Regions from separate parts of the Homo sapiens genome. Here region 1 is linked to region 2. Evidence: fine-mapped expression QTL. A gene starts in region 2. The other region holds a variant in brackets. All regions are shown on one strand. Distances are between the middles of the regions. Region 1 overlaps ACAN (aggrecan). Region 2 holds the start of MFGE8 (milk fat globule EGF and factor V/VIII domain containing).

Region 1 (5,373 bases), 52 kb after region 2:
GCCCAGGAACTTTTTGGTTAAGTCAAGAAGGCATACTTTGTATTTTCACTTGCAACCCTATATTTTCATTTGCTTTGAAAACATTTCTTTCTCAAGGATAGAGGTTTCTCTGAAATTCAAACATCTCTCCTAGAGGAAGAGAGAGTGGAAAGTCATAGATCAGAGCTTCAAACCTAGAAACTGAAAAATAGCAGTAAGATAGGAAGGAAACTGATTCAGTTTAAGGTCGTGCCCTCCTAACAGAGGAGATAAGAGAAGGCTACATAGCACCAGTGATGACTGGAAATTGGATGTGAGATCTGGTTAGAACAGTATTTTTCATCCTTGGCTGGCACATTAGAATTACTGGAGTAGTTTTTAAAAATATTCCTATTTAAAGATTTTTTAAAAATACCAATGCTGAAGTTCCTCTTTAGACCAATTGAATCAGACTATCTCAGAGTGGGGCCCAGGCATGATGCTTTTTAAAAGCACTCCAGGTGATTCTAAGCTGCAGCCAGGATAGAAACCTTAGAGTCTGAAGCCTAATTCCCTTGGGTGATGTCAGTAATGGAAGTGGGGAAAGACGCTGCTGTTTTTGAAGTGGGTCAGAATAGAATAGTCTTGCTTTTAATTGCTAAATAACTTATAATAACTTATCAAGAACTTATTTATGGAAGATTGACTAAAAAAGATGACAGTAATTGTCAATTTTTTTTAAGGACTAAATACAGCTTCTGACCCCCTTGACCAGGTGGAAGTTTTCCCTGAGGATTCAAATATTACTGCAGGAATCATGCTGCATTTTGCTCCCTATGGCCCCCCGAGGATACTGATCCATGGTCTTGTTTCTTTTTTTTTTTTTTTTTTTTGAGACCGAGTGTCACTCTGTCACCCAGGCTGGAGTGCAGTGCAACAATCTCGGCTCACTGCAACCTCCGCCTCCTGGGTTCAAACAGTTCTCCTGCCTCAGCCTCCCGAGTAGCTAGGATTACAGGGGTGCGCCACCACACCAAGCTAATTTTTGTATTTTTAGTAGAGATGGGGTTTCACCATATTGATTAGGCTGGTTTCGAACTCCTGACCTCAGGCAATCCATCCGCCTTGGCCTCCCAAAGTGCTGGGATTACAGGCATGAGCCACTGCACCTGGCCGATCCGTGGTCTTTTTAACAACCTGTAGTTCCTGATTGTGGTGCAAGACAATCGTGGGTCACCCGTGAAGACTGGCCACTATCTGCAGTCCTTCTGGAAGCACTTGAACCTTGAGCTAAGTTGAACAAGAGTGACCTGGGACCCCAAGGTACAGTCATGGGAAAAGAGACCCAGGTTTTGTGCTGGGCTGATCCCCACCACTCACTCTTTGGAGATGCTAAAGCTTCTCTTAGCCAGTAGAGTGAGAGATGGGGAAAGGGAAGCAATTTTTATTAAATGCCTCTTCTGACCAGATGTTGTACATGGGTGATCTTCACCCTCACAGCAGCGGTTCTCAGTCCTGGCTGCACATTGGAGTCGCCTGGGAGTTTTAAAAACCTCAATGCCAAGGCCACAGAACCACTTCAATCACAATCTGTGGGGGTAGATCTCAGGCATCATAATTTTTCAAAGCTGAGAACCATTACCATCGATCCCTGTTTACAAATGAGGAAAATGAAGGCTGGGCTGCAAGTCTTGAATCCGACCACCTCAGATTCCTCAGCTCCTCCCCATTCTGGCTCCCCTGAAGTCCAGCTTCAGTTTTTTGAGACCAGCAACTGGTTGTTATGTTCAAGAGGGAGTTTCTTATTTAGCCGAGTGTGTTAAACACGTGAATTAAGGTCTTGATTCTTGATTCAATCCACTTACTCAGTATAGTTAGGCAAATTACTTAACTCCTCTGAGTTCCAGTCTCAAATGGGGGTAGTTACCAAGCTGCTTACAGAGCCATCTGGGGAGAAATCGTGGGAACAAAAGCCCTGTGGAAATATACATGATCACAGAGAGGCTGTCCTTACAGCAGAATAGTTACGGCCCACTGACACTTACTCCTATTAATTTCAGGGCTGCCAAGAACATGAGCCTTGCTTTGACTTCTGATGCTAGTGTCAGATTTTTGCCTCAAGTATCAGGTTAAGAAGGATTTCCCAAGAGTGGAGTCACCCATCAGGGGTGAGTGATGGTGGGGTGCAGCTATGGTCCCTGGGGTCACTATGGCCCAGTGGAAATGCTGTCCCCTTCTGCAGTAAGCCCGGGACCTTCCCAGGATAGCCCACCCTCTCTGTCCTTGCAGCCCACACGTTGGGGAAAGAGTGAATGAATATCTACCCTAACGTCTGTTTATATATACATATATAGTTACTGCATATGTACCATGTATACAGCATGTTTATATGATATATAATAATATATAATGATGTATTAATTTGCATGTATATTAATATATATAGACACAGAATTCTTCTCTGTGTTTGATGTAAAGGCTATCGAAGGATAATTGCCCGACATGAGGTTTACGTGGAAGTGATTGTTTTTTCTCCAGGATTCGTTTTTTCATTTTTGCACATGTCCTAGGAGTGACCCCTTTTATGAAAGACCCTAGGTCTCTGATTCTTGACCTAGGAGGGAGGCTGGGGATAAGGGCACTGGGGTTAGTGGGAGAACTAATGAAAGAACATGAGCTTGGTGGTAACTGGGCATTTCTTTCCTCAAG[GT/T]GGTGATGTTGATAAGATGAGATGAGATGTCCTCATGACCACGGGCCTCCCGTGTGTCCGTGGAACAACAGGTAGATTCTAACCATCTCCTTCCGGGGTCCACCTCAGATCAGAGGGTCCCCAGCCTCTCCACCCATCCCACAGGCTGCTTCACCCATAGCTAAGGACAAACAGGCTCATGGTGGGTGCCTGGGCAGACGTGCTGCTGGGTTACAGCTGCCCTACATCCACGAATCCCTGTGCTGGGTGATTACCGTTGTTTGTGTCATTTCCTTCAGGGCAAGAAGGGGACCCAAACCCCACGCAGACCCAAGCATGGAGGCAACTTGGTGGGGTTCACTCTGCACGATACAAGATGGCCCCACTCAGACACTCCTCACCAGGAGCGGAGAGGTGTGACCCGCTGTATTTAATACTCACCCCATGCTCGATATTTCTTTGAAGTCTCATCTCCAAAATTCAAGCACATTTTTCATTCTACTCCTACAATAGTCATCAGCCTGATATAAAAATACTTAGCAACTTAATTACTTGACTCTTTTCTCCTAAACCTAGACATTCGAGAAAGATAAGCCATGTCTGTCCTGTGGCTTCTGCCCCTGACATGTCATCATGCAGCTCCTTCCCAGCCTGAGCCTCAGTGGACCTTGGTTGCCTCCTCCCACCTGGGGACCCTTTGGGGGATGAAGAAGTCTGTCCAGCGCCTCCGCCCTCACTCTCCACGGCCAATGAGGGCCTTACCTATGTTACAGTGCTCGCCAGTGTAGCCAGGGGGGCACAGGCATATGACGTGTCCCTCTGTCTCCTTGCAGGTCCCAGCTCCACAGGGCTCCTCTGCACAGGACCTGGCGGGGGCTGCAACCCCCAGGGGAGAGGTTGAGCATCAAGAACACAGTCACCTGGCTACCATGGCCTCCAAGACCTCAAAGTTGGGGCATGAGGTTCCTGAAGTCCACGAGGCTGGCTTTGGGTCAGCACTTTTCTGAGGCCTCTGTCCCTCCTGGGCACCTGGCCCACAGCATCGGGGGGAGCTCTCTAGCTGTGAAAGCTCTCTCAGCACAAAGGAAGGTACAAGGGACCCCAGAGCAAAAAAAAAAAAAAAAAAAAAGGAAAATCAGCTACCGCTACCAGTGCCCGCTGCCCGGCACTTGGAGTTATGTCACGGTGAGACAATCATGATAGTACAGGAGCCCCTTTGTACACGGATGGGGTTGGGGATGCAGAATCTAAAACCAGATAGCCAAATGACACTTCATAGTTCCTTAAGTTGTGCAGGTTTTAACCCTGCACAAAATAAATATTCAGACATAAACACCATCAGCAGATTTACTCTCTCATCTTACACTCACTCCGGGGCAGGGTGCATGAGCAGAATTTCTAGCACTATCTAGACAGTCATCCTTCTCTCCCTGTGCCAAGTACAGATAGTTGAATTCACGTGTAAAAACTCACGGACTGTAACTCCGCTGTAACGATAACATCACTCATCTTTACAAGTGTGCACTGCATGCAGAGCGTGATGCTAAGTGCTTGCTTTATCTATCTATGTTTATGTTCTGCCTAATCTTCCCTGGTAGAGTATTATCCTACTCTTACGTTACAGATGAGGCTCAGAGAGGGGAAGACTATTGCCTGAGGCTGCACAGCTAACCTTTGGTGGAGTTGTTCTTGGAACCTTAAAGCTATGCTGCCTCCTTCTGTGCTGCAGTAGGCTACAGTCTGAACTACCTAAGCACATTTAAAGGGGGAAAAAATCACAATACCTGCAGCAGTTGATTCTGATTCACGTTTCCATTCCGGAGAAGCTGGGATGGAAGCATCTGTTGGGGAGGTGGCTGTTTCGACTGTGTGAGTCTCTTCTCCTGAGTACAGGAGGCTTGAGGACTCAATTTCTAGATGCGTCTCTGCAGGGCGCTGGGTCTGCTGGGTCCACTCAGACTCTGGGATGCTGGTGCTGATGACAACGCCCAGCTGCGAGGTGTGACCAGACAGGTCTCCGCTGATTTCAGTCCTGTCTCCAGAAGCCGTGGGAGTGGCTGAAGGCAAGCCTGGTGCCTCTGTCCCCACATCACTGGTGGTGGTGGATTCTCCACTCACTTCTGGGGCAGCGGACGCCTCGCCTTCTTGAAATGTCAAAGTGCTGCCGCTCACTCCTAGGCCAGAGGATCTCTCAAGGTTAGCTTCGTGGAATGCAGAGGTGGTTTCACTCAGATCAGGGGACCCAGAATCTTCTCTGCTGGCCTCAGGGGCGGCAGATGCCCCGAACCCAGCTTCAGGATAGGCGGACGTCTCACTGCTAGATTCTGGGACTGATGATACTTCTACTCCAGACCCAGGGAGCACTGGGGTAGCTCCACTAATGTCCCCAGCTGTGGAGACTTTTCCACTGGACTCAAAAAGCTGGGGTGTGTGTGTCACAGGGGGCCTTTGGCCTAGTTCCTGAGAAATAGTTGGTTCAGTAACACCCTCCACGAACTCAGAAGTGATTAAAGTAACTTCTGGAAGTCCTGAGGCCTCTCCACTGGTGCCCATGGCTACAGAGGATTCTCCACTTACATTGGTGGTGCTGGCAAAATCCCCACTAAAATATGGAGTACCTGGTGGCTCTCCGCTGGGCTCTATCAGCCCGGACTGCAGCCCACTTAGGTCCAGAAATCCAGAATGCTCCCCAGACATGTCTGGTGCTCCAGAATGAGCACCACTGA
Region 2 (5,373 bases):
TCTCGGCTCACTGCAACTGCCGCCTCCCAGATTCAAGCGATTCTTGTGCCTCAGCCTCTTGAGTAGCTGGGATTGCAGGTGTGCACCACCATGCCTGGTTACTTTTTGTATTTTTAGTAGGGACCAGGTTACACCATGTTGGTCAGGCTGGTCTCGAACTGCTGACCTCAGCTGATCTGCCCGCCTAAGCCTCCCAGAGTGTTGGGATTGCAGGCGTGAGCCACTGTACCCATCGGTTTTTCATAGATTTTTAAAAATCAGGTTGAGGAAGCTCCCTTTCACTTCTAGTTTGTTGAGTGTTTTATCACGAAGACGTGTTGGATATTATCAAATGCTTTTTCTGTGATTATTGAGTTGATCCTATATGTCTTTTCCCCATATATATATATATGTTTTTTTTTTTTTTAAGACGGAGTCTTGCTCTGTTGTCCAGGCTGGAGTGCAGTAGCGCGATCTCGGCTCACTGCGAGCTCCGCCTCCCGGGCTCACGCCATTCTCCTGCCTCAGCCTCCTGAGCAGCTGGGACTACAGGCACCCACCATCACGCTCGGCTAATTTTTTTTTTGTATTTTTAGTAGAGACGAGGTTTCACTGTGTTAGCCAGGATGGTCTCGATCTCCTGACCTCGTGATCCGCCTGCCTCGGCCTCCTAAAATGTTGGGATTACAGGCATGAGCCACCACGCCCAGTACCCGCTTCTGAATATTTTAAGAAGGGCATCTTGCCAGTGGACTCTAGTCCCAACTTAGGTCTCAACACAGCTAGGAGGGGAGATGTGTGACTGTTCTATTTTGTTTGTTGGCTAGTCTGACTTAAATACTTATTAGTATTAGTATTGTTATTATTTTTTGAGACAGTCTCGCTCTGTTGCCCAGGCTGGAGTGCAGTGGTGCAATCGTGGCTCACTGCAGCCTCGACCTCTTGGGATCAAGCGATCTTCCCACCTCAGCCTCCTGAGTAGCTGGGACTACAGGCATGCGCCTGGAATATTTTTGTATTTCTTTTTTTGTAGAAACAGGGTTTTGCCATGTTGCCCAGGAAGGTCTCGAACTCTTGAGCTTAAGTGATATGCCTACCTCGGCCTCCCCAAGAGCTGGCATTACAGGCTTGAGTCACCACTCCCAGCCTGAAGCATTATTATTATTATTATTATTATTATTATTATTATTATTATTAGAGACAGAGTCTCACTGTGTCACCCAGGCTGGAGTGCAGTGGCATGATCTCGGCTCACTGGGACCTCTGCCGCCTGGGTTCAAGCGATTCTCCTGCCTCAGCCTCCCGAGTAGCTGGGATTACAGGCACCTGCCACTGCGCCCGGCTAATTTTTGTATTTTTAGTAGAGACGGGGTTTCACCATCTTGGCCAGGCTGGTCTTGAACTCCGACCTCAGGTGTTCCACGTGCCTCGGCCTCCCAAAGTGCTGGGATTACAGGTGTGAGCCACCGCACCCAGCCAAAACACTATTATTAAAATCACTTATTTGTAAACAGGTAATATTTGCACATGATAAGTACAAATCATTTAGTAAAAAGTCAACGGTGACAGGCTTGCTTTGTTTTATTCCCTTTCGGCAAACAGGTGCCCATTTCCTCGCATTTTGTCTATGGTGCCTTTCTTGCAACAAAGGCAGAGATGAATAGCTGCTACAGAGACTCAGGGCCTACATATCAGAGAACATTTTCTATTAGGCCCTTTACAGAAACCTTCGCTGATTTTTTTTTTTTAGTATTTTACCATTTCAGACAATGTTGCTATGCTATCTTTGTATATCTGTCATTTTGCACATGGGAGTTTCTGTAGAATGAATCTCTCTATGTGGAAATGCTAGGTCTTAAGGTGTCAGCATTTGTCGTTTTGATAGGTGTTACCAAATAGCCCTCTAGGGAAGTTGAACTAATTTATACTGTCTTCAGCGAAGCATGCTTGGACCTGTTCCCCACAGCCTCCACTAACCTTGTTAACATCTTGATACTTGCCGATCCGAGAAGGGAAACACGATGCTCATTGTAGTTTTAATTTGCATCTATCTGATTATGAATAAAGAGTTAGCATCTTTTCAAGTCTAAAAATCTTAAAAACAAAACTCCTGAACTTTTCCCGCCCAACAGACTCAAGACTCGTGACCCGGCCGTTGGCACGACGCGGGACGCCGGTGTGGCAGTGGCGGAAGAGGCAGATATCGCGGACCACCCCCGCGCCCCCCAATTCCTTTCAACCAATTCCCTCCCAGCCGCGGAGCCCCGCCCCCAGTCCGCCTCTGGCCAGCTTGGGCGGAGCGCACGGCCAGTGGGAGGTGCTGAGCCGCCTGATTTATTCCGGTCCCAGAGGAGAAGGCGCCAGAACCCCGCGGGGTCTGAGCAGCCCAGCGTGCCCATTCCAGCGCCCGCGTCCCCGCAGCATGCCGCGCCCCCGCCTGCTGGCCGCGCTGTGCGGCGCGCTGCTCTGCGCCCCCAGCCTCCTCGTCGCCCTGGGTGAGTGGATCGCGCCGCCCTCTGCCCCTCGCCCCTCCTCCCCGCGCCGCTCGGAAGTTTGCCCGGCGCCCGCCCTCCACCTCCACTGTTGACAAACTTAGACAAAGCCCCGGGGACCGGGCTGGGCAGAGGGGCGGCTTCTTCCGCTGCGCCCTGGCGGGACAGGGGGATGCGGCCCTGCTGTCTCTGCGCTGGGGCTTTTGGGCTGGGACTCGGGACATCGGGTGACAGCCCTGCCGCCCCCAGGGATGCGGCTTACAGATAATGACAAAGGAATCCGCTGTGTCGGGCCTCTCTTTTCCCTGGTGAAAAATGAGGCCAGGGAACTGCGTTTGACTTTCGAACCCCTTCCACCTGGGAGATTCTAGGACTCTAGTATGGATAAGTCTTGTCTGGATAACTTTGTCCTGGCCATCTCCCTGCCAACTCCAGTTGGCTGGACAGTTCATTGGATTTTTGCGCTCCCAATTGTCCGTGCCTGGTCACATAAGGGAAGGGCCGGGGAGTCGGTGCAATGGACGCAGGCCGTAAGTGGGGCCCGGGAGGGGACCCAGAGGCTTCGAGGAGCTTGGAAGAGGGCTGCCTGCTGATGGGAGTCTCCTGACTCCCTCCCTCCCGCGGCCTTGGCCGGCTGCTGTATCTTCCCCGGTCCTCCTCCGCCTCCCAGGAGGCCTCCGGAGGCCAGCTGGGCCCCTTGCAGGCTGGACTTGCGGATGCCCCGTGCCATTCACCGTGGAGCGCTGGGAGGGAGTCAGGGCCAGGACTCTTTAGGTGGCCCCTCCATCATTTTCTCATAGAAATGGGATTGACTGAAGCAAGGTAGGTAACAGCTGAGCCCCAGCCCTATGTCCTGTGATCTGCCTGACCCTCGGGGCTAGAGCTTCCAGAGTGCTCCAAGCTCCCAGGAACTTGGGAGCTCCTGGCCCTCCCCGGCCACCATGAAAGACAGCTGGATCTTCTTAGCCCCTTTCTACTCTTCCCTGTACCCCCCAACCTGAACTCTGGCCAAATGTTACTGGAAAGTCCCCGAAAGAGCAGGACTCTGAAGTCCCAAAGATGTTTTTATACAGGGTGATGTGGCCTTTTCCAGAAGGAGGAAACACCATACCTATCTTACACACAGGTAACGTGGCTGGGTAGAGTACACCTTTCCCTTTCCCTTTTTCCCACTGGACCGTTTTGCCCTGGAGCAGTGTAGGGAGAGGGCCGGTGCAGTTGGGAGGGAAGAGTCCATTCCCAACCCAAGCCTCTGTCTGTGTCAATGCTCGCCCCCGCCTGCCAGGTCAGAGGAAGGATTACCTGCTATTTAAAGCCAATGACTAATAGCTCCTTGGGAGCCACTTTAAGCTCCTGAGGCCCCTGGAGGGGGAGCTCTGAGGGCAGATCGCTCATTAATGGTGTTGTTGCCTTCCCTGGAGTGGGATGAAGGGGCTTTGAGATTTCAGGAGGACTCTCCAGCCTTAGATGGGTGACTCTGAGGGGGAGGCAAAAAGGTTTTTTTTTTTTTCTTTTTTCTTTTTGAGATGGAATCTTGCTGTGTCGCCCAGGCTGGAGTGCAGTGGCGCGGTCTTGGCTCACTACAAGCTTCGCCCGCTGGGTTCATGCCATTCTCTTTCCTCAGCCTCCCAAGTAGCTGGGACTACAGGCACCTGCCACCACGCCCGGCCCGGCTAATTTTTTGTATTTTTAGTAGAGACGGGGTTTCACCGTGTTAGCCAGGATGATCTGGATCTCCTGACCTCATGATCCTCCCACCTCGGCCTCCCAAAGTGCTGGGATTACAGGTGTGAGCCACCATGCCCGGCCAAGGCAAAAAGATGTCTCATGTCTTGCTCCAAATGACAGATTTGGGTGTAGGGTCTGGGGCAGCCCTTCTGGGATGCTAATGTCGGCTAGAGGACTCCTGTTGGGCCCGGCCGACCCACCAGAGTCAAGGGATTGAGGACAGGCCCTCCTGTTCCTTCTCCTGTGTTCTCCACCACCGGGGCTGATAGTGTACATCTGTCATCCAGGTTCCCATCCAGAAGCCCTGGTGGCCTCTCCAGCCCTTGCCCCCTGGTGGTTCTGAAATCACCCTTCCTTTTCACTCCTCTGCCCTGACTTCCTCTCTCACCATGCTCTCCTGCTCTCCACCTTCACCCTCTTCAGTGGGATTTCTGCATTTCAGCCAGAGGGACCTGTCTGCAGCTACCAGATGCTCCCCACCCTGGGAGAGCTCAGCGGCATGTCTGCACATGGGCCTTTTCAGCCTTCTTCATCCCGCAATTGGAACTGACTTTCCCACTCCCATCTCACACTTGAGAATCTCTGTTTCTTGTTTCTTGTTTTTTATTTTATTTTTATTTTTTCTCCCCCCTGGTGGACAATGGTGAGGAGGGTGAAGGAAGGTTAAAAGCCACTGCTCTACGGGATGAAAAACTAAACTTGTCATTCTTCAGATCCCTCCCAGTCTGGCCCCAGCCTACCCTTCCAGCTGCATCTAACTGTGCTCCAACATACCACACCCTCTGTGCATCTGCTTTTCTTGGAACATTCTTTACTCATTGCCCAGTCTGGCACCCCCCTTACTTTGTCTTCTAGACCCAGCTCAAATATTCCCTCCTCTGGGGAACTTCTAATTCCCCAGCAGAAATCATGCCTCCAGTGACGGTCCATGCAGGCTTCTGGAGCGTTGGGCAATCTTCCTCATCTGTGGACTTGCTGGCCTCTTTCCCCTTGGCTTCTTGAGGCCTGCGCTGCATCTGATTTCTCTGTCTCGGGGGCCTAGCATGGTCATTGGCCCTCCCAGTGTTTCCTGGATGATCATCGTGCTGTTCCTGAGTCAGGGCTGCCATTGGAGGTGACATCTGTGACTGCAACCTGTGCCTGAATTGGTGGGCGGAACCTGCTCAATGGGCCA

Evidence for each region. PIP is the estimated chance that this variant, and not a neighbour inherited with it, causes the effect. A credible set is the group of variants that fine-mapping cannot tell apart.
Region 1: its variant is the best candidate, but not a certain one, in a credible set for the expression of MFGE8 in whole blood (TOPMed, PIP 0.53).

What each region holds. Positions count from the first base shown.
Region 1 is chr15:88,858,476-88,863,848 of GRCh38, reverse strand. It overlaps ACAN (aggrecan), which reads right to left. Exons shown (of 19, transcript NM_001369268.1): 12 at 4,432-5,373; 13 at 3,410-3,523. Among named protein-coding and RNA genes, the nearest start is that of HAPLN3, 34 kb to the left of the region's middle. The variant GT/T (reference allele first, on the strand shown) is at 2,668.
Region 2 is chr15:88,910,348-88,915,720 of GRCh38, reverse strand. MFGE8 (milk fat globule EGF and factor V/VIII domain containing) reads left to right here and starts at 2,342. Exons shown (of 8, transcript NM_005928.4): 1 at 2,342-2,474. The coding sequence starts at 2,402. RefSeq lists an enhancer at 2,601-3,132.